3 separate regions of the Homo sapiens genome follow, and all the other regions are linked to region 1. Evidence: fine-mapped expression QTL. A gene starts in region 1. Each other region holds a variant in brackets. All regions are shown on one strand. Distances are between the middles of the regions.

Region 1 (8,182 bases):
CATTGCAGTAGGCATTAAGATTGTCCAGCTCCAAAATTATGGTCAACTTACTGTTTGGATATTTATTTGAATTTTCAACAAAATTTTCTTAATTTAACTATTTATCCAAATATTTACTGAGTGCCTACTAAGTGCCAGGCACTGTTCTGGTCCTTGGGATACATCAGAAATAGAACAAAGATTGTGGCCCTTGTGGAGCCCATAGTCTAAACAGGGGTGACAATGAAAATAAACATAAGAAATAGACAAATTATGTAGTATGTTAGAAGCTGATGGGTGCTATGAAAGAGATGATGTTTAGAGTTACAGGTTACACTGTGATAAAAGAAACACTTCAGCCAAATTAAATTTAAAGTTTAATTGAGCACAAAACAATTCGTGAATCAGGCAGCCTTCTGAGCCAAGGTAGGCTCAGAGACTCCCGCGCAGCCACACGGTGGGAGATTTATGGACAGCAAAAGGAAAGTGACATACAGAAAATGGAAGTGAGGTACAGAAACAACTGGGTTGGTTGCAGCTCAGCGTTTGCTTTATTAGAACACAGTTCAAACAGTTGGCTACATTTGATTGGCCAAAACTCAGGGATTGACACAGGTGTGGGCTATGGCCTGTTTACACCTTCATTTGTTATAGCTCATGATGTACAGAAAAACCTTTAGGCTGAACTTAAAATATGCAAGGAGGCAGCTTTAGGCTAAACTTGATTTAACAACTGTGTCAACTCTCACCAATGCCACCCACCTCCCCACACCCCCCAAGAAGGGACAGAGAACATACATGTTTTTTAATACTATTGTTTTAGGGAACATTTGTGAGATGAGGTCCATTCATGTGTGGGGTCCAGGGCAGAGGCCCCTCTTGCCTAGTTTAAGGGCAGTATTAAGGGTAGACCTCATTGAGAGGTGAAATTTGAGCAAAGACGTGGAGGAGATAAAGGAGTTAACAACTGCAGCCATGTGGAGAAAACAAATTTCAAGCAGAGGGGCCGGCCAGTCAGTGCAAAGCCCTTAAAGCAGGACTGTATCTGGCATGTTTGGTAAACAGTAAAGAAGCAGGTATGTAGGTAGTGATGGGAGAGTAGAAAGAGACGAAGTTTTGAGGAGCCAGATGGTGTTAGAGCTCTGTAGGCCAATTGTAAGGACTTTGGCTTTTATCTGAGAGAAGCGGAGAGCCAATGCAGATTTTTGAGCAGAGATGTGACATGATTTGATTTATATATCCATTTAGTCACAAATAATTTTTAAAGGTGTTTTGGAGAATAATTAAATGTGAAATTATGCACATTTACGTTGACTGTGTTGTTTTAAGCTGGGATGTTACAATCTCATTGAAGATTATAATTCTGGAGTCAAATTAGCTGAAGACTTTCCTGCTTAAAAAGTTTTCCAGCATGTGATACATGCGTAAGTAGAGCTTTTTTAATTATTATTTTTTTTTTTGAGACGGAGTCTCGCTCTTTCACCCGGGCCAGACTGTAGTGGCGCTATCTCAGCTCACTGCAAGCTCCGCCTCCCGGGTTCACGCTATTCTCCTGCCTCAGCCTCTCGATTAGCTGAGACTACAGGCGTCCGCCACCGCGCCCGGCTAATTTTTTGTATTTTTAGTAGAGACGGGGTTTCACCGTGTTAGCCAGGATGGTCTCCATCTCCTGACCTCGTGATCTGCCCGCCTCGGCCTCCCAAAGTGCTGGGATTACAGGCGTGAGCCACTGCGCCCGGCCAAGTAGAGCTTTCTTCTATATACCTATTACTTTACTTTTTTCTTCTTTTTCATGTTCTTCACTACACATTTTGTGTGTGTTCCTAGGAAATCTTTTAAACTAAGTTTTATTTGATATGTATATTTAGTATCGATGTTCTAAGATACTATTGAATAAAATACATACTGCAGTAGCTTAGTTAAAATACTGGAACCGAGGCCAGGAGCGGTGTCTCATGCCTGTAATCCCAGCACTTTGGGAGGTAGAGGTGGGTGGATCACCTGAGGTCAGGAGTTCGAGACCAGCCTGACCAACATGATGAAACTCTGTCTCTACTAAAAATACAAAATTAGCCGGGCATGGTAGCACATTCCTGTAATCCCAGCTACTTGGGAGGCTGAGGCAGGAGAATCACTTGAACCCGGGAGGCGGAGGTTGCAGTGAGCCGAGACTGTGCCACTGCACTCCAGTCAGGGAAAAAGAGTGAAGCTGCATCTTGAAAATAAAATAAAATAAAAAACACTGGTACCGAAAAAAATAATAGTCACAAATGGCATTACTTTGTGCCTTTTACAAACAAATAATACTTTGAGGGCCAATTGTATACCATTATCATCTAAAGTCTGTCTCATTTTCTTTGCTTTAATGAAATCATGATAATCTATTATTTTCTACTCAAGGTTAACAGAAACTGGCTTGTTACTTAATATTTCTTTGACTTCTTTTGTCCATTAAAAAAGGGGGGTGTTTTTAAGATTAGTGGGTGAAAGTTGATGTATAAATAAGAGTAGACACAGCTTTAGGTAAAATGACGAAACAGGTTAAGTTTGGCTTCCTCTTTTTGTTTCAGTTCAGGCCCATGCACCTAGCACAATACTTAGCGCATTGTAGGTGCTCATTATATACTGCTTAAATGAGTGATAAGTTCCCTGAGACATTTATTTCCTGCACTTGTTAGGGTTCAGTGAGCCGATATCCGGCCACTGCCCTCCAGCCTGGGCGACAGAGCGAGAATCTGTCTCAAAAAAAAAAAGATAAAAAATAAAAATAAAAGACTACCTGCCAGAGGAAGTGGGCAATCTTCGCCTAAAGATATGAACTGCTAATGGTTAAACATCAGACGTCAGAGAAGACATATTTTAAAGTGGGGAATTTTCCCCAAGAGCACCCTCTAAACCACATCAGTGGGCAACTTAACGCACTTTGCTTGTCATTGGGTTAGATGGGAGTTTGAGGAATTGGGAGTAACATTTGGTATATAGGCTTGGGACATAATATCCTGAATTATTTCTATTTCATAATTCCTGTGCAAAAAATTATGGGAGTTGTTGATTCTACAGCAATTCCTGTCAATTTGTAGATTATCTGCTTATTAATAGTTTGTATTGTTTGGCAGAACTTGAAAACTACCGAACGATTACAGTTCAGGCTTTTTCCCAGTACCTCTGGCGTTGCTGTCTCAGTGACTAGGAGGTGAGGAGGGTGGCCCTTGAAATGCCAAACTGCCTACCGCAGCAGTCTGCCAGCAGCGTGCTGGGCCCAGAGCCGGGGATGCAGCCAAAACATCCTGGATTTTACCTACAGCTCCCACCCTCTGGAGGGACTGGTCTATTAGGGCATATGACACTGACAGTGCGCACTGTATACAAACCGTGTTTGAACAGGAGTCGGTTGGAAAATACACCACTGCACTGAATTACTTCTGCAGTGGCTTTGCAAAGCTCTTTTTGTTTCTTGAAAGAAGCCGACGGTAACCATTACAATATGGCTTTTTCCAGGTCCCAGAGGAAGGCTAGGGGTGCCTTGTGGGTAACCCTTTCTCCCTCTCCTGACTCCTTCCCGTTATTTCTTCTATCTTCATCCTCTAGACCTACACAATGGGACAGGTTGACAGTCTGTGTTGAATGGAAGAGGCGGACGATGCGCTTGTGTTTGGTGCTTCTCAAACGGTGCTCGCACTCCCCAGGGTCTGACGCAGCCCACTACGCAGAGCCCTGGGAGGAGGTGCGGACCCAGGGTACGACCCCCGACCGCTGAGAAACCCAGACCGGGCCCCGGCTGCAGCCCCGCGGGTCGGCCCGCCCCCCTGCCTTCCCTATTGGCTCGGCAGTTCCACGCGTCACGCCTGCGACGCCGGCGCTGCCCTCCCAGAGGAGGCGGGGCTTACACGCGCGAGGCGGAGCCAAGGGCGCACGCGCAGACGAGCGGGTCTGGGTCCGGACGAGGGGAGGGAGGGGGTGGTGTTCTCGGTTTCCTGGGTTACCTGGGCGGGCGGGGGTGGGGAGTGCGCGGCGGCGGCGGCAGCGGCGTCGGCTCGGGGTTCTCCGGGAGAGGGGGAGTGCGCGGCGGCCGCAGCTGCCACAAACCAGGTAAAGGCGGCCGCCGGGCGCCGACGCTGCCGGCAGAAGGTTCCGGGTCCCGGCCCCTCTGCGTGGCCTGGAGGGGAGGCGGTTTGGGGCTGGTGGCTGTCAGCCTGGGTTGAGGGCCGGGACCGCCGGGCTGAGGGCGCGAGGGCGCGAGGGCACTCGGCCTGACGCGCCAGCTCGGGGCGTCCTCTCTGGCTTCTGGGCTCTGGGACTTCTCGCGGCGCCGGGCCGCCTTTGACAGCCGCCGGGCCGCGGGCGGGAGCTCGGCTGGGCCCCTCTGGGCCATTGCAGCGGCCACTGGGCACTAACTTTATTTCGCAGCGCGCGGGGGGCGAGGTCGAGCAGGCTGACGGCGGTGTGTTGCTACCTTTATTTTATTTTTTGATCCTGTGCCGCTGCACTACTCAGCCCAGCTGGGCCCAAGCTGTCAGGTTGACGATGGGAGTTGACGGTTTCCGCGCCACCACCCAGCCGGTCACTCCCCGCGCTGTTGCCCTGCGGCGCTCGCCCACCTGTCACCTACACCGTGCGCCTCGGTCCGCTCTTTCCTCCTGTCCGTGACACCCTTTGACTGGGCGAGAGCCTCTCTTTCCAGGGGATCCCCTGAGACATCTGCCGTCTGTCTCCGGTATCACTGGAGCCTGACTGAGATGCCCCTTCGCTTCTGATGAGTTAAATAAGCTGGGAAATTACCCGAGAAGACCCCGGTACCACAGTGTAAAGCCCAACGAAGGGGTTGTTTAATGGTCCAGGGGATACAGAGGCTTTAAGAAACGTTTCCTTAACGCTAATTCTTATCTGGTTAAACAAAACATAGCAAAACATCCCCGATCCGCTCGGCAGACCATACACACCCAGCGACGGCACTTGATAGTTAATGGGGTTTGTTTTAAGCAGATAGAAAATTTTAAGGGAGTCGAATCTTGTGTTGAATGCGTTCGTGTTGAATTTGGGCCAGTGTTTCCTTGAAGATCAAATGCAGGTTGCATTTTCCTATTGTTTGTTTAACAGATTGATAGGACAAACTGAATTAGACTTTTCTTCCTGATGATTCTTGGCTCTTCTGCGCTATTATTTTAAAATTCCACGCCTAGATTCATCTATGCTAATAAAGATGTTGACTTTAAGCTTTCAATTTATAGATGTAGTTGATTAATATGGGGTATCTGTTTTAAAGAGCTTTGTTAAGTGGCCAACAACTCTTTTTCTGATAGCTCTTTGCTGTCATCCATATTGTTACTACAAAGATTGGAGAATTTGAAGAAGAGAGGGCATAAGGAAAAATGAATTGCTGTAATTTGCATAAAAATACTTCACAAACTATATAATTATATATATGTATTTAGTAAATATTTATTGAGCACCTACTGCGTGTCAGATACTTTTCTAAGAAAACATAAATATCTGCTCCTTCATGGAGCTTATATTCTAGTGGGGACCTCAGATAATAAACAAATAAAATATGTGCTGTGTCAGATGGTGTTAAGTACTACAGAGAAAAAGCACGGAAGAGGGAGGGCAGGGAAGAGGGAGGGCAGGGAACCGGGAGAGGTTTGCAATTTTAACTAGAGGCAGCCAGGGAAAGCTTCCTAGAAAAGATATCATTTGAGCCAAGACCAGAAGTAAGTGAGGGGTAATCCATGTACCTCTCTGAGGGAAGGATGTGCTAGCAGAGAGGAAGGCAGAAGGGCTTGCAGAAGCCCTGTGTGCTGGGCTTGTTTGAGGACAGCAGAGAGGCTGATTTGGCTGTGGTGGAAAAAGCAAAGAGGAGTAGAAATAAAGTCAAAGAGGTGAGTGTGGTGGGAGATTAGACTGTATAAGGCCTTGTAGGCCCTTTTAAGGACTTGAGTTTCTACTCTCAGTGGAAAGGGGAGTCCACTCTTTGAGTAAAGAACCTTACCTTTTATTTTTAGTTTTGAGTCAGGATCTCACTTTGTCTCCCAGGCTGGAGTGCAGTGGCATGATCACAACCTACTGCAGCCTCGACTTCCCAGGCTCAGGTGATCCTCTCACCTCAGCCTCTGAAGTAATTGGGACTTCAGGCACACATCACCCACCATGCTTGGCTAATTTTTTGTAAAGATGGGGTTTCGCCATTGTTGCCCAGGCTGGTCTCAAACTCCTGGGCTCAAGCGATCCATCCACCTTGGCGTGTCAACATTCTGCGATTGTAGGCGTGAGCCACTGCGCTCGGCCCCAGGCTTGCCTTTTAAAAATGATCATTCTGGGCGCTGGATGGAGAATAGACTTTGTTGTAGGGGAAGGGTTGAGCAGGAGCAGAAGCTGGGATACCAATCCGGAACTGTTGCCCTAATCCAGGCCAGAGATAATGTAGCTTGGACCAGAGTGGAATTGGTGGAGGTGGTGAGAGGTCATTGATTTCAGGATAAATTGAGGGTAGAGATGTAAAAGACACCAAAATTTAGTTCCGAACAAGTAGAAAGATGGGGTACTTGTTTACTGAGATTAGGTTTACGAGAGGAGTAGGTTTGGTGGGGAGAAGGGTGGGAGTTGGTTAGAAGACAATAAAATTAGACATTCACGTTTTTAAAGAAAAAAATATTCAATGATACTTGTTTAAGAATGGTAAGTAAGGCTTTATTCAGAACCATCTCAATAGGTATAGAGACCTCTGCAGTGGGGCCCTGCAGTAGGGGAGGGAGACTGGGCTCAACTCCGAATACAGCATGAGAAAATGGGAATTTATAGCCAAGCAGCAGTGTGGGGATCGTGGATGGAAAATTGCTAAAAGGAAACATCAGGGATAAGGGGGATTCTGGCTAAGCCGACCTAACGGGATTCTTGCTGAAGACAGGCCAGGGCGATCAGACATTACCTGGGGAATGGTGGAGGATGAGGAACCTGATCAGATATTTAGGATGATTAGATATCCAGGATGTTATGCTAAACAGACTTAGCAGGGTTCTTTGCTAATACTGGATTTTACAAGGAAGTGCACAGATGGGCCTCACAGAAAATTCAAAAGCCTGAGTAAGTTTGGCCAAGCAAAGAATTTTTGTCAAAGCTGAGATTATTAGTAGTAAACACAAGTGACTTTGTTTTGAAGACACTTTTTACGTTACCTTGACTATACCAGGGGGTTAAAAATTTCACCCATAAACTGCCAGCTTTGATTTCATGATTATTTTCTTCTTAATTCTTTTGGACCAACCTAGTCATTCTTTTCCCAATTGTAGTTTTATTTTTGTTTGATTGCACTCACATAGTGTGTTTGTTAGCTTCGGTTGTAGAGAGAGCCATATAGTCTGGAATTTCAGAGTACCTTTTTGGTCTGTTGCTGTATTTAACTTGAACACCTTCATCTGATTAATCTTTTCCTGAATTATCTGGTTGCCGGCTTAAGTTCAACATTTTTTTTTTTTTTAGACAGAGTCATTCTCTGGTTTCTCTTCAAATTGTATAAATCTTTCGCCTTTTACTAAAGATTTCCGTGGAGACAGAGTCTCGCTCTGTCACCCAGGCTGGAGTGTAGAGGCGAGATCTTGGTTCACTGCAACCTCCACCTCCCAGGTTCAGCCAATTCTCCTGCCTCAGCCTCCAGAGTAGCTGGGACTACAGGTGTGTGCCACCACACCCGGCTGATTTTTTGTGTTTTTAGCAGAGATGGGGTTTCACTGTGTTAGCCTGGATGATCTCAATCTCCTGACCTCATCATCTGCCCTCCTCGGCCCCCAACTGTGCCTGGATTACAGGCGTGAGCCACCGTGCTGGGCCAAGTTCAAGATTTTTTTTAAGCCCTAAAATGTTATCAAGTGTGGCTTTACTTGGCCATTTGCAAAATTACAAAGGAAATGACTCATTTTTAATACTTTGTAATGTCAAAAGACAAAATTACAACAAATTTAGCTTAAAGATCTTACTTCACCTTTGCCATTGTAGAATCAGGCAACACCTCATTTTATAAAATAGAACAAGTGTTCTCATGAGCCGAGCAGAAGTGGTTGGTTTTATGGTAGTCTCACTTTATCTTGAAGGGGTGTGTGTGTGTGTGTGTGTGTGTGTGTGTGTGTGTGTGTGTTTGTTTGTTTTGAGATGGAGACTTGCTGTGTTGCCCAGGCCAGAGTGCAGTGGGGTGATCTCAGCTTACTGCAAACTC
Region 2 (8,182 bases), 77 kb before region 1:
GGCGTGGTGGCGCATGCCTGTAATCCCAGCTACTCGGGAGGCTGAGGCAGGAGAATCGCTTGAACCTGGGAGGCAGAGGTTGCAGTGAGCTGAGGTCGAGCCATTGCACTCCAGCCTGGGCAACAGAGTGAGACTCTGTCTCAAAAAAAAAAAAGAAAGAAGAAAGAAAATTCCCTATTGAGCAACTTCTCTGTTCCAGACACTGTGTCAGGTATCATGGAGGATGCAGAGACTGTGCAACTTGGTCCCTGACTACTTTAGGACAAGGAGGAAAGCACGAGGACTTAAACGAAAACACGAGGCAGAGGAGCATGCTAACCATACGGCTCTGCCAACACTAAGAAAAATCCATCACTTCTCCAAGGTTGAATTCCAGTGAGGCAGTTTGTCCAGCAACTGTACATTGCCATCTTTTGTTTGTTTGTTTGTTTGAGAAAGAGTCTCACTCTGTCACCAAGGCTGGAGTGCAGTGGTGCGATCATAGCTCACTGCAGTTCTCAACCTCCCAGGCTCAGGTGATCCCTCTCACCTCAGCCTCCCAGGTAGCTGGGACTACAGGCATGCGTCACCATCCCCAGCTAATTTTTTGTATATTTAGTAGAGACAGTGTTTCACCATGTTGCCCAGGCTGGTCTCAAACTCCTGGGCTCAAGCAATCCTCCCACCTCGGCCTCCCTAAGTGCTGGGATTGCAGATGTGAACCACCATGCTTGGCCTACGTTGTCATTTATAATGCACATTCCAGCCCTGGCTCTTCACCCCTTCTCTATAAACAGCAAACCACAGCCCTGTTGGAAGTTCTCACGGGAAAGCAGCTAGCGGAGTGTGGGGCCTCAATTGTGTGCCCTTTAAAGAACCTCCACTTATTAACCTCAAACATGAAGTTATTATTGAAAAGGAGAAGACAGACTGCCTGCCTTAACCAAGGGTTGTGTTTGCAGGGTTCCTTTCTGGGAGCTGCAATCAATAACCAAGACCTGGTTCTAGAGGGCAGTAGTGACACACCCATTCCAAATTGCAGACAGTCCAAAATTACCAGACCCAGGGCTCAGCCCTTTCAGAAGGACACAGTGGGCAGCATAGAAATAGAAGATGAGTCGAGCCCACTCTGCCGATTGCAGGTCACGAAATTACCAGATGATGCACTGAAACAGGGCATCAAAACCAGGCGAACAGGGGGAGCTTGGAGTAGGAGACTCACTCTTCACCTGGTCATAGAAGGCGGGGAGTCCCTAGCCTGGTCATGGGGTAATGAAAGCTTGTGCAAGGAACACTGTGTGAAATATTATGCAAAACTCTTCCGCCAAACGAAATGCTGCAAAGGACTTCTCTCCAGACGGAAAATGGAACTAAACCTAGTATCGCTTAGGGTGGAAGTCCAATTCACAAAAACTCCCTTGGTGCTCTTCTGGACACTACAAAATTAGCCCCGCCCACAGGTCCACCCTACAACTGGGTCTGAGTCCAGACTCACAGGCAAGTTCAAGCATGTGGGGCCATCTTTGCCCCACTCAGTGCCCTTTCTGTATACTCAGTGCAAACAAGAGTTTTCGTAAGCAGACCGCCTCCAGAGTTTGAAAACCATTCATCGTCAGATCTTAGGCCAGACTTCCAATTTAGGGCACTTTGCCCTCAGCCTCCGTGTGGTTTCTTTTTTTTTACAGGCCTCAACTGTGAGAAGATCCGTTCTCACCACCCCTCAGTCCCTCTGCGCTTTGCTCTTGTCCTACCAGCACCCTTCCCCTGCCAAAGATGCCCCTCCCCACTTCCTTACTCTCCCCCAGCCTCTGTGCCGGCCCCAGAACATGAGTACATGTGTGAGTGAGCACATGCGTGTGTGCCTGAGTGCACATGCATATGTGTGTGTGTATGTATGTGTGTGTGTGTGTGTGTGTGTGTAGGTATGTGTGTGTGTGTGTGTATGTATGTGTGTGTGAAGCTGCCCCTGAGGTAGAATCTGGTAGATGGGGCAAGAATTCATTTATTCAACTCAATTGATTAGGCACTTACTATGTGGGGAGATACAACAGTAAAAAGACAAAAATCTGGCCGGGTGCAGTGGCTCACACCTGTAATCCCAGCACTCTGGGAGGCCAAGGTGGGTGGATCATGAGGTCCGGAGTTTGAGACCAGCCTGGCCAACATGGTGAAACCCCATCTCTACTAAAAATAAAAAATTAGCCGGGCTTGGTGGCGTACTCCTGTAATCCCAGCTACTCAGGAGGCTCAGGCAGGCAGGAGAATCGCTTGAACCCGGGAGGCGGAGGTTGCAGTGAGTCGAGATCATGCTACTGCACTCCAGCTGGGGTGATAGACAGAGACTCTGTCTCAAAAAAAAAAAAAAAAAAAAAGACAAAAGGCCCTGCCCTCCTAGTGGGTGATGGCCCCTAGGAGCTGTGCGTTGCTAAGCAGGCCAGGGAGACAACTCTAGGATACCAGCAAGGGCCGCCTCCACAAAACCAGAGAGAGGCCAGCTTGTATGCCTCTGGGCGGTGCTGTCACCCCACTCCCATCCCATCCCAGTGAGGTGCTCTCCTTCCCCTCGGCGCTCCTCTGTGGAAGCATTCTTTCTCCCATAGGTATTTGCAGTCTGTGAGGACCAAAGCCTGTGGCAATCTCAACATCACCTGTAGAAAGTTTTTCTTTTAGGGGGAGGTTGTAGCGGGAGGTTGTGGGGGGACAGAGTACATTTTCCAGGCCGTCACAGATCCTGAACTTAGGACTGGCCTCTTTCCTTCAGTAGCCACGTTGGCTCTGTGTCCAGGAGAACAGTCACTGTAGATCCACGGAATGGCTGTCGTGTGTCTCTGTTCACTACCGTGGAACGCAGGGGGTCCCAGGAAGGTGAGAAAGCCAGGGCTGGGTGTTGGGCTGAGCATGGGGGAAGGAAGAGAGCTGGAAATTACTGTCGATCAGGTAGGGCAGTGAAGGAGGCTGGCAAAGTTGGTTAAGGTAGGAGGATGCAGGTACTCAAAGGTCACAGAATCACCGGAAAATGATATTCATTGAGTTCACTTGTCACTGTGTTTGCTCATGGGAGGTAGTAGAGAGAGCACACTGAGATGGCTTCCCATTCAAATCCTCCTCCTGTTCATCTCCAGCTGCGTGTCTCCTGATGAATTATTTAACCTCTCCGGGCCTCCTTTTGCTCATTTGGAAAATACTTTTAATTGATACTTATTTTAGAAGGAGGTTGTAGAGATAATGAATAGGAAGGGCAGGGCACATTGAACAAGTTTCATAAATAATATGCACCATAATCATGGCACTTAATTCTTATAGCAAGTCTTAAAGGTTTATCTCCTAGGAGGAATTTTAGAGATCTTCCAGTTCAGCGGTTTTCGAACTTTGGCCTGCATCAGAACCTCCTAGATAGCACGTGTGTTAAAACACAGATTTCTGGGATCCACTCCCAGAGGCACTGGTTCAGTAGGTCTGGGTTGGGACCAGAGAATGTGCATTTCTAACTAGTTCCAGGGCGATGCTGAGGTCGCTGGTCTGGGGACCACACTTTGAGAACCACTGTGCTAGCCTAAATTCCTCATTTTGCAGAGGACGGTCCTGAGGTTCAATCCTGTTAGCTCCTTCCCCATGGTCAATAGAGTCAGCCTCCCAGATCCAGGTCCAGGCCAAGGTCAGGAGATCCAAGCTGGGAGACAGGAAAACAAAGTACAGCATTCAGGAAATGTGAGGATGCAAAAAGCCACACTCCAGGCAATGAGCCCCAGGGACGGACCCAAGGTTCCAGCGAGAGGAATGA[T/G]CTTAGCAGACAGCAAACCATTGCTGTGCTCCGGAAGAGAACTGGCCTCAGTGAGGTCCTGAGCCACAACAGTCCACGTGTCTGGCCTCAGGGAGCATGTGTGTGTCAGGGATGGGGGGATAAGGATTGTGTGGGTGACACAGGAGGGTGAGAACCGAGTGTAAGTGCATCTGTGTGTGTGAGTGCTTCTGTGTGTCAGTGTTTTTGGGTGAGGGTGTGTATTAGTACGTGTGTGAATATGTGAGCTTGTGTGAGTGTGTATGTCAGTCTGCTTGGGTATCATCACGATGCGTCACACACAGCGTGGCTTAAACCACAGGAATTTATTAGTTTACAGTCTGGAGGCTGGAAGGCCAAGATCATGGTATTGAAATGGTAAGGATGGTAAGTTATATATGTATATTTTATCTCAACTAAAAAGACGAATAATTTTTTTAAAAGATCATGGTGTTGGCAGGGTTGGTTTTTCCTGAGGCCTCTCTCCTGGGCTTGCAGATGGCTGTCTTTTCCGTGTCCTCACAAGGCCTTCTCTTTGTGCGTGTTCATGTCCTGATCTCCTCTTTGCATAAGGACACTGGTTAGACTGGATTAGGACTCACCCTCAAGATCTCATTTTGATATAATTACCTCTTTAAGAATCTATTTCCAAATAAGGTTGCATTCTGAAGGACTAGGGATTAGGGACTCAGCATATAAATTTGGGAAGGGGATGAGATTCAGCCCATAACAGCACATGTATACATGTGCACATGTGCATGTGTGTGTACGTGTGTACGTGTATGTGCATGTGTGTGATGGGCCCGGGAGCATGAAGAAGGTGCTTTACAGAAGGCCTGGTAATGTTGGGGAATACCTTGGTGACATCTTTCCCAGCAAGAGTTCTGGCAGATAAGAAATCTGACTTTCTTCTAGCCTCATCCTGGGTTTGTGAGTTTATGAAGAAGCTGAAGAGCTCCATCACTTCCCAGCTAAACATAGCTCTTCAGATCTCAGGGTTTAAGATGATTTCCTCCTAAGTCAACGCAGCATTTTGCCTCCATTCAAGCAACCCCTTGCTCCAAGCATCGTGATGTGACAGTGCAGCGTTCACCGGCCCACCCCAGCTGATCTGCCCTATGGCACAAGAATAACAATTGGAAAAACTTGGCTTCCCTCCGAGAGCAATGCCAGCTTTGCCCAGGCCAGCCATCTCTGGCATAACTCTGTTCATTTGAGCTTTCCTCATGTGTGATCATCCTTGTATGACCCCGAGGCCAGAATCCCCACTTATTAAAGCTAGGAAAGACATTTTTGAGGCTCTAGTTAGTTTGTTCTTTCATAGTGAAAGAACCATTTGTGGGCTCAAAGGGGGATGTGGCAATAGGTTATTTCGGGCTTTCGAAAGGCCTGTTTTCCATCTGGAATGGATGTATTACCTAATAGGCCATCCTTTATAGGAACTGAACAAAGACTCGCTGACACAATCTCAACGGTTGGCCGTTCTTGGGACAGCTAGACAATTATTTTGCTTCTGGGTACAACAAGCACAAAAGAAGGGGCCAAGGTACACGCAGACCTTAGTTTGAGTTGGAGAAGGCCTGAGGGATAAACCATCAGGAAAGCTCATGAGTTTTCAGAAGCTTCTGGGGCCATCAGGTTGATACCAGCGTGGATGCACCAGGCTGAGGGCTGATGAACCACAGGGCGGTAAATACAGGGCCCAGCCCAGGGCCTAGGGACAGTTCCCGCCCACTAAATGTTTGTTGATCAAATGACTGATTGGAGGAATGAAAAATATTATTTAAAGGAAGGCAAGTGTGTGAGCCAGGCGGGAAAGAGAGGGCTGGACGTGATGGAGAGAGGTTATAACCAGCTTCCTCTAGAAGGCTCATTGCAGCAACCACATGGCCTTTGAGAAAAGCTTTTCATCAGGAGACGCCTCAGTCTGCCTAAAGTTATGTGTTAAGTGTCCATTGTATGCAAAACAGTGGGAGGCAAATAAAAGAAGTCCTTTAGAAAATTTCCATTTCCTGCTTATATTTCATACAGAAAAACATAATTAAAGCTATAGACATAAGGAAAAAGACTGGAAGAAAAATGGAAAAATAATAGTAATTGTACCGGGGTCGTGGGATGATGGCTAAATTTATTTTCTCTTCCTGAGTTTCTATAATGCTCTTTCTTGGCTTTAACATCAAAATAGGGATTCAAAGAATCATGATTGTCTGCAGTTGTGATCGCTGCAGTCAACTCAGGACAGGGGTGCCTTTCCTGGAACCCATAGCTCAATTCAGAGGGTGGGGGGTTTGGTAACAGTGGAGCAAAGACCCCAGCAAGGCAAACCTGAGCCATTCTTGGGACAGGGTTGGTCTTGATGGGGCCACATCTCCACATGGTATCCCCCACTTAATTTGCTCCAATACCCCCAAAACCCGGCTTCGTTTTTTCGCTCCTCTTTATCCTTTTTCCCTTGCTCATTCATTCATCAAACAACTATCAAGCTCCTTCCTATGAACAATGAGTCCCATCAAGCCCTGGGAATACGTAGAATGAGAATCAGGTCCTGGGCTCACCACTTGCAGAGGAAGCAGATATTTAAACAAATGGAGCCAGGCACGGTGGCTCATGCCTGTAATCCCAGCACTTTGGGAGGCCGAGGTGGGCGGATCACCTGAGGTCAGGAGTTCGAGACCAGCCTGGCCAATATGGTGAGACCCCCCGCCGTCTCTATTAAAAATACAAAAAAGATCTGGGTATGGTGGCGGGCATCTATAATCCCAGCTACTCAGGAGGCTGAGGCAGGAGAATTGTTTGAACCCAGGAGGTGGTGGGTGCAGTGAGCTGAGATCACGCCACTGCACTCCAGCCTGGGCAACAGAGTGAGACTCCATCTCAAAAATAAATAAATAATAAAAAAACAAGTGAAGACAGAACAGGAACAGTGGAAGAGCCAACAGGCTCTCAGTGCCAGGAATCTGAGCATCAAGGAAGGGAGGCTTCCTGAAGGTAGCTGATATGTTTGATGATAGATGGTAGATGATATGTTTGAAGTGAGTCCCAAAGAAAAGGTAGGAACGCAAATAGGAAAAGACTTTCTGCAAAGAAGGAAATCTGTTTGCAAAGGTACAGCTCCAGAAATGCACAGTGGGTCATACACATTGTTTTTAGGAGGAACTGTGAGGTCATCAGTCTGGAGCCAAGGGTGCAAGGTGAGAGGGGAACATGAGTAGGCACAGCCAGGCATTGAAGGGCCTCGTCTACCCTACAAAGGTGTGTGGACTTATCCTACAGACATTGAGTTGCCTGAGTATTAAAGTAGCATGAAGACATGGTACCATTGGTTTTATAGCCAGAGAATTCTGGTAGCCATAAGTAGGGCAGGGAAGTGGGACCAAGGGCCAGAAGCGTGATGATGAAACCGGGTTGGGTGGTGGGGTGGTGAAAGCCTAAGCTACGTACCCAGCAGTGAGTGTCGACATGATACTGCAGTGCTGTGACTTGCAGGTCAGTTGGGAGGAGAATGAGGGTGGGGAAGCCAACGGGTTGATCTCTTCGCTCTGCCAGCACCAAGTTCTGGGTGCTCATCCACTCCCTGACCCACAGCTCTTTGCTGTCTAATGTACCCAGCACCTTGCAGCCACACTAACCTTCCCCAGGCAGTGTCATCTCATCCCTGTTCTCCCCAACCACCTTGTAGAGCATAATTGCATAAAGGTTAAATTCCCCCTTCATTTTTAAAAAATTAAATTATTTATACATTTTTAAAGCTATCTTTTGTTTTAGAGATAGAGGCTCACCCTGTCACCCAGTCTTGAGAGCAGTGGCACGATCACAGCTCACTGCAGCCTCAACCTCCTGGACTCAAGAGATCCTCCACTTCAGCCTCCCAAATAGCTGGGACCACAGGTGTCCACCACCATGCCCGGCTAATTTTTTAAATTTTTTGTAGAGATAGGGTCTTGCTATGTTGCCCAGGTTGGTCTCGAACTCCCAGACTCACATGATCCTCCAGCCTCAGCCCCTCAAAATGCTGGGATTACAGGGGTGAGCAACCACACCTGGCCAAAATCCTCTTTTAATGGCTACATTCCAAGTCCCCTATTCAGCCTTCACGCTCAGTATTTCCTAGTGTGAAATACCTCCACCCAAGACACCCTGTTATGTCCTCACAGAACCTGCCATTTCTGCACTGACACTCTGTCCTCACAGTGTCTCCAAGGGCTGCCCTCCTCTACCTGTGTGAATGAAATACATCCTCCAAGGCTCACCTCCCCTGTGAAACCTCCCCCACCAGGGTTCCTCATAGAAAGCTCTCCCTCTGCTGATTCCTATGGCATTTTTTCCTGACACTCTACCACTCTTGTTTTGCACTGTTACTTACATGTTTTGAACATGTGTCATGGCTCACAGAATAACGTAAGCTCTTTGTGGGAGAGAAGCCAT
Region 3 (8,182 bases), 33 kb before region 1:
GTTTACCTTTTCTGTTTTTATTATAACATTGTTTTGCCCAGAACCTACCACCCATTTGCTGAGGAAAGTGTGCTGGCTGACTTTGACAGGCAAGTGGGGCAGGAACAGGTGAAAAGGAAGAAATCCACTATCAGTATTTCATCATAAACTGGGCAGAACAGAGCCTCAACCTGGATCTGCCTTTACCACTTCAAGTGCTGTGAACTCTTGGCTTGTGCCACATTTTCTCTCAATGGGCCACACTTGCTTTCTTTACTGACATTTATGCCTAGTGCAGTGGAGAGACAAGAGGATGGGCAGCAGGCCAAGTAGTTCTGGGTGGCCCTGTGGTGCTGGACTCACCGTAGTCTTGGACTTGCTCTCTGACCATACGCAAGTCACTCCTCTTTCAATTTCTGCGCCTATAAAATGCATGACTCACCTCACAGACACCGAGAAATACCAAGTGTTCCTGTCTTTAAAGAGAAAGAGTTATTAAAAAAAAAAAAAAGCTACTGTAGATGTACCTATCAGGCTATTACTAGACCAAAGCTAAAACCAAGGCCAAAGCCAGCTTTGATTTCATTTCAAGGCCTGGAGCAAGGAACCTACTCTCAGAACTTTAAAGAAGCATGCTGTTTAAAGTCAGCTTCCCAGCCTGCAATTTAGATTCAGACTCACACACACCCCACAGTGGAGACCTTAGTTCCCCTGCAGGTACACACAGTAGGACTTGAACCAGCAACTTTGCCTTTTTAGCTAAGCAGTAATGGATTGATTGCATTTACAGCCAGAGCCTGATTGGCGTGCCGGCCATATTTGCTGACAAAATTCAGTCACGTGATCTGCAAAAGGATGTTTTAATTATTTGTGAATTTATTTCTATGAGAAGTTTACAAAGGAATAAATATTAAATCAAATGCATTTATGCATTTAGCAAGTCACTCTATTTAAGAACAAATTGTATACTCAGGCCATCATGAGCTCCTTAAAGACCACTGTGTTTTATTTATTTTTAAATCCCCATCTTTAAAATACCCTTAAAATAGTTGGCGATCAATAAATGTTGACTGACTAATTAGTTATTCCATCAAACACGATTTCTATAGTCTATTGCAGGGATAAAAGGGAAATAGAAGATGTAGTCTTTGCCACCAATTGGAGGCGATAGGGCAAACAGATTAAAGAGACATACAGCGAAAGGACATTGCACAGTGAAAGCCAATTTGCATTTATATGGAACTTGCCTGGTTGGGCAATATTGATCACTCATTCATTTAATCTTTCATTTTTATCATTCAATAAATATTTTGTAAGCACTTTTCGATGAGATAACAAAGAAGAAGGCTGTGTTAACTCTGAATTATGCTCAGTTCTCGAGTCTTCTTTGACTAAACAGGCAAGAAATGGGCAATTCCATGGACAGTGCCCAGAACTGCTACTTTAGAGAAGCAAAAAGATACTACAAGGTTTCAAGGGAGAAAATGGATCCAGTCTAGGGGTGACAGGCGGGTCCATCTCAACCACCAAAGAGCACCTGCTTTCAGTGACATCATTTCAAACATGAAGAGTAAAGAAGGGAAGGGCAACGTGGAATTTAGGAAAAAAGAACTCCTTCCAAACTCAGGAACTTTAATAGTCCGTAAGCAGGAATTTTGACAAATGCTTTTGACTCAGAGATTTAGAATTGTGGCTTAATAAAACTAATAAACTAAAAACCAATAAAAATAACACAAATGACCTTCTACTGTGGATAAAGGCAACCCCACTATCATTCATTTCACTATCAGCTCTGTCCAGAGGAATAAAATTCACCTTCAGCCCCCTCTTTACTGTGGATTCCTAAAACTGTGGCCAACCAACTCCCAATTGCCCAATTTCTCCTGTGTCTTCGGTGGGGTTCCCAAGAACAGGAGGATTCTTGAGCAAGTGATTCATCAGGGCAGTGTTCTCAGGAGGAGGCGAGTGAGGAGGCAAGAGAGCACAGGGTGGGGAAAGTCAAGGAAGGATGTGGTCTCATCTGGAGACCAGCTTCAGGCTGATCCCTCCAGGGAGCTTGGGAAACCCAAAGTGCACCACACAGGCAATGCCTCCTTGATGCAGGGGGCTGAGCTTTTGTATGTCTGGGCCAGACTGCCTTTTGGGAGCCTTGACTCCCAGGAGAAGGAGGGGCTGTGAGTTGTCATCAGCCAGCAAAAGGGACCTGGATGGGGCACTCCTAGCACCTACCATGGTGAAATATACGAACCGCTGAATACAAGTGAGCTCAGTGAAGGGAGATGCTAATCCCCAAACCATACATCTTGCCATTATATTGTAACAATAAGTAATTCAAAATCAAAGCTGTTTCTACATCCCCCAAAGCACCTCAGACTCAACATATCCCAAACCAAAGTGTCACCTCACGTCCCCCATGTCACCAAACCGCTTCCCTGGTATTCTCTTTGTCGATGGGATTCCATCATAATGAGGTCACTCAAGCTACTGACTTCTCTCTCTCTCTTTTTCTCTCTCTGCAATCTGTTCCACATTTAATCAATCACCAAGTCCTACCAGTTTTACCTCTTAAAGGTTCTTAAACATATTGCCTGACTCTCCCTCTTCATTACCACTGACCCAGGGCAGATCCTGGTCATATCTCACCAGATCTCCCTGCCTCCAAATGCGTCCTCCCCAAATCCAACACCTCCCACCCCATTCCTGGCTAAAATGTTCAGTGATCTCTTTCTACAGAAATGTCCAAGCTGCTGACCTTAACTTTCAGCAGCTTCCCTGAACAGGCACCAGCCCATCTCACTGACTTATTTTTCAGCACTTTCTGACTTGCACTTTATTTTCTAACCACACTAAACTGCTGACTGTTGCCTTGCCCACAGAATGCTGCTCTCCATCCAGGCCTGGACTGATACTGTTCCCTCTTCTGCTAATGCCTTTGTCCTCTTTATCTGGCTCGCTCAGATCAGATGGCACCTCTCCAGGAAGCCTGCTGTCCTCCTCCTCCTCCTCTTCCTCAGACTGGGTTCAGTATCCTTCCCCTGTGTGGTTGTTTTTTTTTTTTTTTTTTTTTTTTTGAGACAGAGTCTCGGTCTGTCGCCCAGGCTGGAGTGCAGTGGTGCAATCTCGGCTCACTGCAAGCTCCACTTCCTGGGTTCACGCCATTCTCCTGCCTCAGCCTCCCGGGTAGCTGGGACTACAGGCGCCCACCACCACGCCCGGCTAATTTTTTGTATTTTTAGTAGAGACAGGGTTTCACCATGTCAGCCAGGATGGTCTTGATCTCCTGATCTCCCACCTCAGCCTCCCAAAGTGCTGGGATTACAGGCGTGAGCCACCG[T/C]GCCTGGCCCCCCTGTGTGTTTTTTTTGTCTTTTTTTTTTTTTTTTTTTTTTTTTTGAGATAGAGTCACTTCGTCACCTAGGCTGGAGTACAGTGGTGAGATCTTGGCTCACTGCAACCTCTGCCTCCCGGGTTCAAGCGATTCTCCTGCCTCAGACTCCTGAGTAGCTGGTACTACAGGCATGCACCACTACACCTGGCTAATTTTTGTATTTTTAGTAGAGATGGGGTTTCTACTAAACCCCCGGGCTGTTGGCCAGACTGGTCTCGAACTCATGGACTCAAGTGATCTGCCCACCTTGGCCTCCCAAAGTCTTGGGATTACAGGCATGAGCCAGTGTGCCTGGCGCCCTTTGTCTTTTACATAGCAAGCCACTGCAATTGCTACATAATATTACAATTATGTGCCCCCTTCCCTAGACTGTGAGCTCCCTGAAGTTAGGAAATGCTGTGCCTTATTTGTATTTGTATCCTAGGTGTTTAATATAATAACTGGTACTTCGTAGGTACTTAATAAATGAATGCTGAATTGATGAATATTTATTGAGCCCTCCCACCCCCTTGAGACAGTGTGCCATTTGAAGAAACTAGATTAGTGTAAACTCATATATAGTTCCCTAAGGTGGCAGGAGGCACTTCCAACACTAAAAGAACAGTACCAGACAGCATATATTTCATTTCAGAGCTGCAGAAGGTGATACCATCAACAACTTGGGGATGCGGGATGAGAGAGATCAGAAATGGCCTGGGAAGATTTCAGACCAGGAAGAGAGCAGCCCAGAAGGATGGGTTACAGAGAATTGGTGGCTATCTCACCCTGTTACCATGCTATGGTTTACCCACCACCAAACTGGTGGAAAAGTGAAATAGTTATTGATTCATTTGTCAACCTTAAATAACATGATTTAGAACATATGATTAGGTATAGAGTTTATTGGAGCTCAAAGCCAGGAATAGCCATCCAGGAAACACGGACTTCAAAGAAGTGGAGCCAGTGATCTAAAGTAAAAAAAGTTAAAGTCGGCCAGGTGTGGTGGATCATGCCTGTAATCCCAGCACTTTGGGAGGCTGAGGCGGGCAGATCATGAGGTCAGAAGATCGAGACCATCCTGGCTAACATGCTGAAACCCCGTCTCTACTAAAAATACAAAAAATTAGCTGGGCATAATGGTGGGCGCCTGTAGTCCCAGCTACTCAGGAGGCTGAGGCAGGAGAATGGCGTGAACCCGGGAGGTGGAGCTTGCAGTGAGCCGAGATCCCGCCACTGCACTCCAGCCTGGGCGACAGAGCAAGACTCTGTCTCAAAAAAAAAAAAAAAAAAAAAAAAATTAAAGTCTTGCTTATACAGGCAGAAAACAAAGAAATTTAGTAGGATTAGAACATTTCATCTTAGACAATGAGATAGTTATGAAGTCTTTGTGTCAGAAAGGTAAGAAGGAAGTGAATCTATAATGAAGATCAATAGTGAAGGTGGAAGGGATCTTCCCTGGCACCCTTCAGTCATTTACAACATTTTACAAAACAATGTGGGTAAGAAAGAAGGCTAATCTATAATCAGAGAAACAAAGGTTACAGCTGCCTATTTATGTAACTTGAGTCCCATAATCACACTCCTTCAAGGTTCATAATATTTTAAAGTTCCAACAGCCTTGATTTTGAAATACTTATTTTCACACATTCAACAAATATTTGTTGAGCATGTACAATGAGGCGCAGACCTAGGTGCTGGGGGATATAGCAACAAACTCAGAAGGCCTTATGTCTGCTCTCATTGAGCTTACCAGGTGGTGGGGAGACAAAACACAAAAGTAAGCAAAGAAATGTATCATTACACATAGTAATAAGTCCCTGTGAAGGGACTAAACAGGATGGTGGGAGAGAAAATAGCAGGAGGACAGGGAAGGTCTCCCTGAGGATGTGGTTTTAAGCTGAAGTTGGCAAGGACAGGAAAGAGAGGGAGGAGGAGCATCCCAGGACACAGGCCCGAGGGACTGCCCATTCAAGAAACCCAGAGGCCAGTGCAGCCTCAAAAATGTGGGCTGACGGGACACAGTGGCTCACAACGTAATCCCAGCACTCTGGGAGGCTGAGGCAGGAGAACTGCTTGAGGTCAGGAGTCTGAGACCAGACTGGCCAACATAATGAGACCCTGTCTCTACAAAAAGTAAAAAATAAAAATTAGTGGCCAGGCGTGGTGGCTCACACCTGTAATCCCAGCACTTTGGGAGGCCAAGGCAGGCAGACCACCTGAGGTCGGGAGTTCAAGACCAGCCTGACCAACATGGAGAAACCCCATGTCTACTAAAAGTACAAAATTAGCTGGGCGTGGTAGCGCCTGCCTATAATCCCAGCTACATGGGAGGCTGAGGCAGGAGAATCACTTGAACCTGGGAGGTGGAGGTTGCAGTGAGCTGAGATCCTGCCATTGCACTCTAGCCTGGGCAACAAGGGCAAAACTCCATCTCAAAAAAAAAAATTAGCTGGGCTACTTGGGAGGCTGAGGCAGGTGGATTGCTTGAGCCCTGGAGTTTGAGACGACGGTGAGCTAGGATCGCACTACTGCATTCCAGCCTGGGCAACAAAGCAAGATCTTGTCTCTAAAAATATAAACATTTTAAAATAAAAAAAATAATAAATTTGAAAAGTAAATAACAATAATAATTTTTTAAAGGTGGGCAAATGAAAGCAAAGCCCGACAGTATCTACAGTGGGGCAGGCAAAGACAGAGCAGGTGGACCCAAGTCAGCCAGGATAAGTTTAGATTTTGTTCTAAGTACTACAGCTGGCTGAGCAAGAGCTTTAAGACAGAGATGATGTGGTGTGATGTATTAATCAGTGCAGTTCTTGCGCTGCTATAAGGAAATACCTGAGACTGGGTAATTTATAAAGAAAAGAGGTTTAATCGGCTCACAGTTCTGCAGGCTGTACAGGAAGCACGGCAGCATCAGCTTCTGGGGAAGCTTCAGGAAACTTACAATCATGGTGGAAGGCAAAGGGGAGTAATGAATCTCACATGGCCAGAGCAGAAGGAGGAGAGAGACAGGGAGGTGCTGGACACGGTTAAACAACCAGATTTCAAGAGAACTTAACCCCTACACAGCACCGAGGGGAGACTGTGTTAAACCATTCATAAGAACTCTGCCTCCACGATCCAGTCACCTCCCATCAGGCCCTACCTCCAACGCTGAGGTTACAATTTGACATGAGATTTGGATGGGGACACAGATACAAACCATGTCATGTGATTTACATTCATATTGGAATACTCAGGCTGCTGGGAGGAGACAAGATTGAAAAGGAATTTGGGAAGAAGGGAGAGCCATTGGGGGTGGTTAGGACTAGGATTAAGCTATTTAACTTTTCCCTTTGGAAAGATTATTATTTACCCCATTTTACAGCTGAAGAAACTGAGCTTCAGAGTTGGGATGGAGCCCAAATTTTGTTCTATCCCTGAATTGGTTCTTAAATCCCAGCTGCCTCCTTTTTTTTTTTTTTTTTTTTTTTTTGACAGGGTCTCATTCTGTTGCTCAGGCTGGAATGCAGAGGTGCAATCACAGCTCACTACAGCCTCAACCTCCTGGGCTCAAGTGATCCTCCCACTTCAGTCTCCCGAGTAGCTGGGACCACAGGTGTGTGTCACAATATCTGGCTAGTGTGTGTGTGTGTGTGTGTGTTTTGGTAGAGACAGGTTTTCATCATGTTGCCAAGGCTGGTTTCAAACTCCTGGCCTCAAGTGATCTGCCCGCCTCAGCCTCCCAAAGTGTTGGGATTACAGGCGTGAGCCACCACGCCCGGCCTCTTCTGTAATTCTTGTGTTCAGTTGCACATAACTTCCAGACTGGCAAAGATGAAAAGGAATGATAATATCCATTTTTGGCAAGGAAGTGGGGGAAAAGGGACTTCTCACCCACTGCAGGTGAGAATGTGAATTCATTCTGTCTTTCCAGGGGAAATCCAATGACTGAAAGAGGCGCATCCTCCTACAGCCACCATGTCCAGTTTTAGGAATCCTAAAAATAAATAAATAAATGATCTACTGAGCCAAGATGTTTGAAAAAGTCTTGTTTGTCAGTATTTGTAAGAGTGAAATAGTGAGAAAATGGGGTTACTCAAAGATGCACGGTATGATCCCATTTTGTAAAATGTATGTTTATACATATAGAAAAAATTCTGGAAGAGTCTATGCCAAAATATTAAGAGGAGTTATTTCCAGATATTGGCATATGTGGAGATTTTGTTGTTGCTGTTTTTTTTTATTTTTTTATTTATTTTATTTTATTTTATTTATTTATTTTTTGAGATAGAGTCTTGCTCTGTCGCCCAGCCTGGAGTGCAGTGGTGCGATCTCGGCTCACTGCAAGCTCTGCCTCCTGGGTTCAAGCAATTCTCCTGCCTCAGCCTCCCAAGTAGCTGGGACTACAGGCGCCCGCCACCACGTCCGGCTAATTTTTTTTGTATTTTTAGTAGAGATGGGGTTTCACCATGTTAGCCAGGATGGTCTCGATCTCCTGACCTTGTGATCCGCCCATCTCGGCCTCTCAAAGTGCTGGGATTACAGGTGTGAGCCACCGCACCTGGCCTGTTGCTGTTTTTTAAAAATCTGTTGTGTCTAATGTTTCTAAATCAAAAGAAGTTCACATTTTTAAATTAATAAATAATAATTGTACATAGTCATGAGGTATATAGTGATGTTTTGATATTTATAATATATAATGATCAGATCACAGTATCAGCATATCCATCATCTCAAACACAAAAATGTTAACTTTTTATTGAAGTATAACATACATACATAGAAAATAGCACACATCTTATGTTCACAATCTGATGAATGATTACAAACTGAACACAATCATGAACAACACATTGA

Alleles and levels. Alleles are on the strand shown, and positions count from the first base shown. SD is a standard deviation of normalised expression in the study named. Not every link is listed here.
With allele C in place of T in region 3, the expression in esophagus mucosa of the gene that starts at base 4,005 in region 1 is lower (small effect, 0.19 SD a copy in GTEx).

The links. PIP is the estimated chance that this variant, and not a neighbour inherited with it, causes the effect.
Region 2: its variant is the best candidate, but not a certain one, in a credible set for the expression of LYST in whole blood (INTERVAL, PIP 0.66).
Region 3: its variant is the best candidate, but not a certain one, in a credible set for the expression of LYST in esophagus mucosa (GTEx, PIP 0.71).

What each region holds. Positions count from the first base shown.
Region 1 is chr1:235,862,729-235,870,910 of GRCh38, reverse strand. It overlaps LYST (lysosomal trafficking regulator), which reads left to right and starts at 4,005. Exons shown (of 53, transcript NM_000081.4): 1 at 4,005-4,068. It also overlaps the pseudogene RNU5E-2P. RefSeq lists silencers at 3,538-3,837, 3,888-4,307 and enhancers at 4,428-4,527, 4,898-4,947.
Region 2 is chr1:235,939,520-235,947,701 of GRCh38, reverse strand. The region is part of intron 2 of LINC02768 (long intergenic non-protein coding RNA 2768); the gene reads left to right. All of the region lies in intron 2 of LOC105373215 (a long non-coding RNA gene), which reads right to left. Among named protein-coding and RNA genes, the nearest start is that of LINC02768, 29 kb to the left of the region's middle. RefSeq lists a silencer at 995-1,064. The variant T/G (reference allele first, on the strand shown) is at 3,761.
Region 3 is chr1:235,895,431-235,903,612 of GRCh38, reverse strand. All of the region lies in intron 2 of LOC105373215 (a long non-coding RNA gene), which reads right to left. Among named protein-coding and RNA genes, the nearest start is that of LYST, 33 kb to the right of the region's middle. RefSeq lists a silencer at 298-498. The variant T/C (reference allele first, on the strand shown) is at 3,314.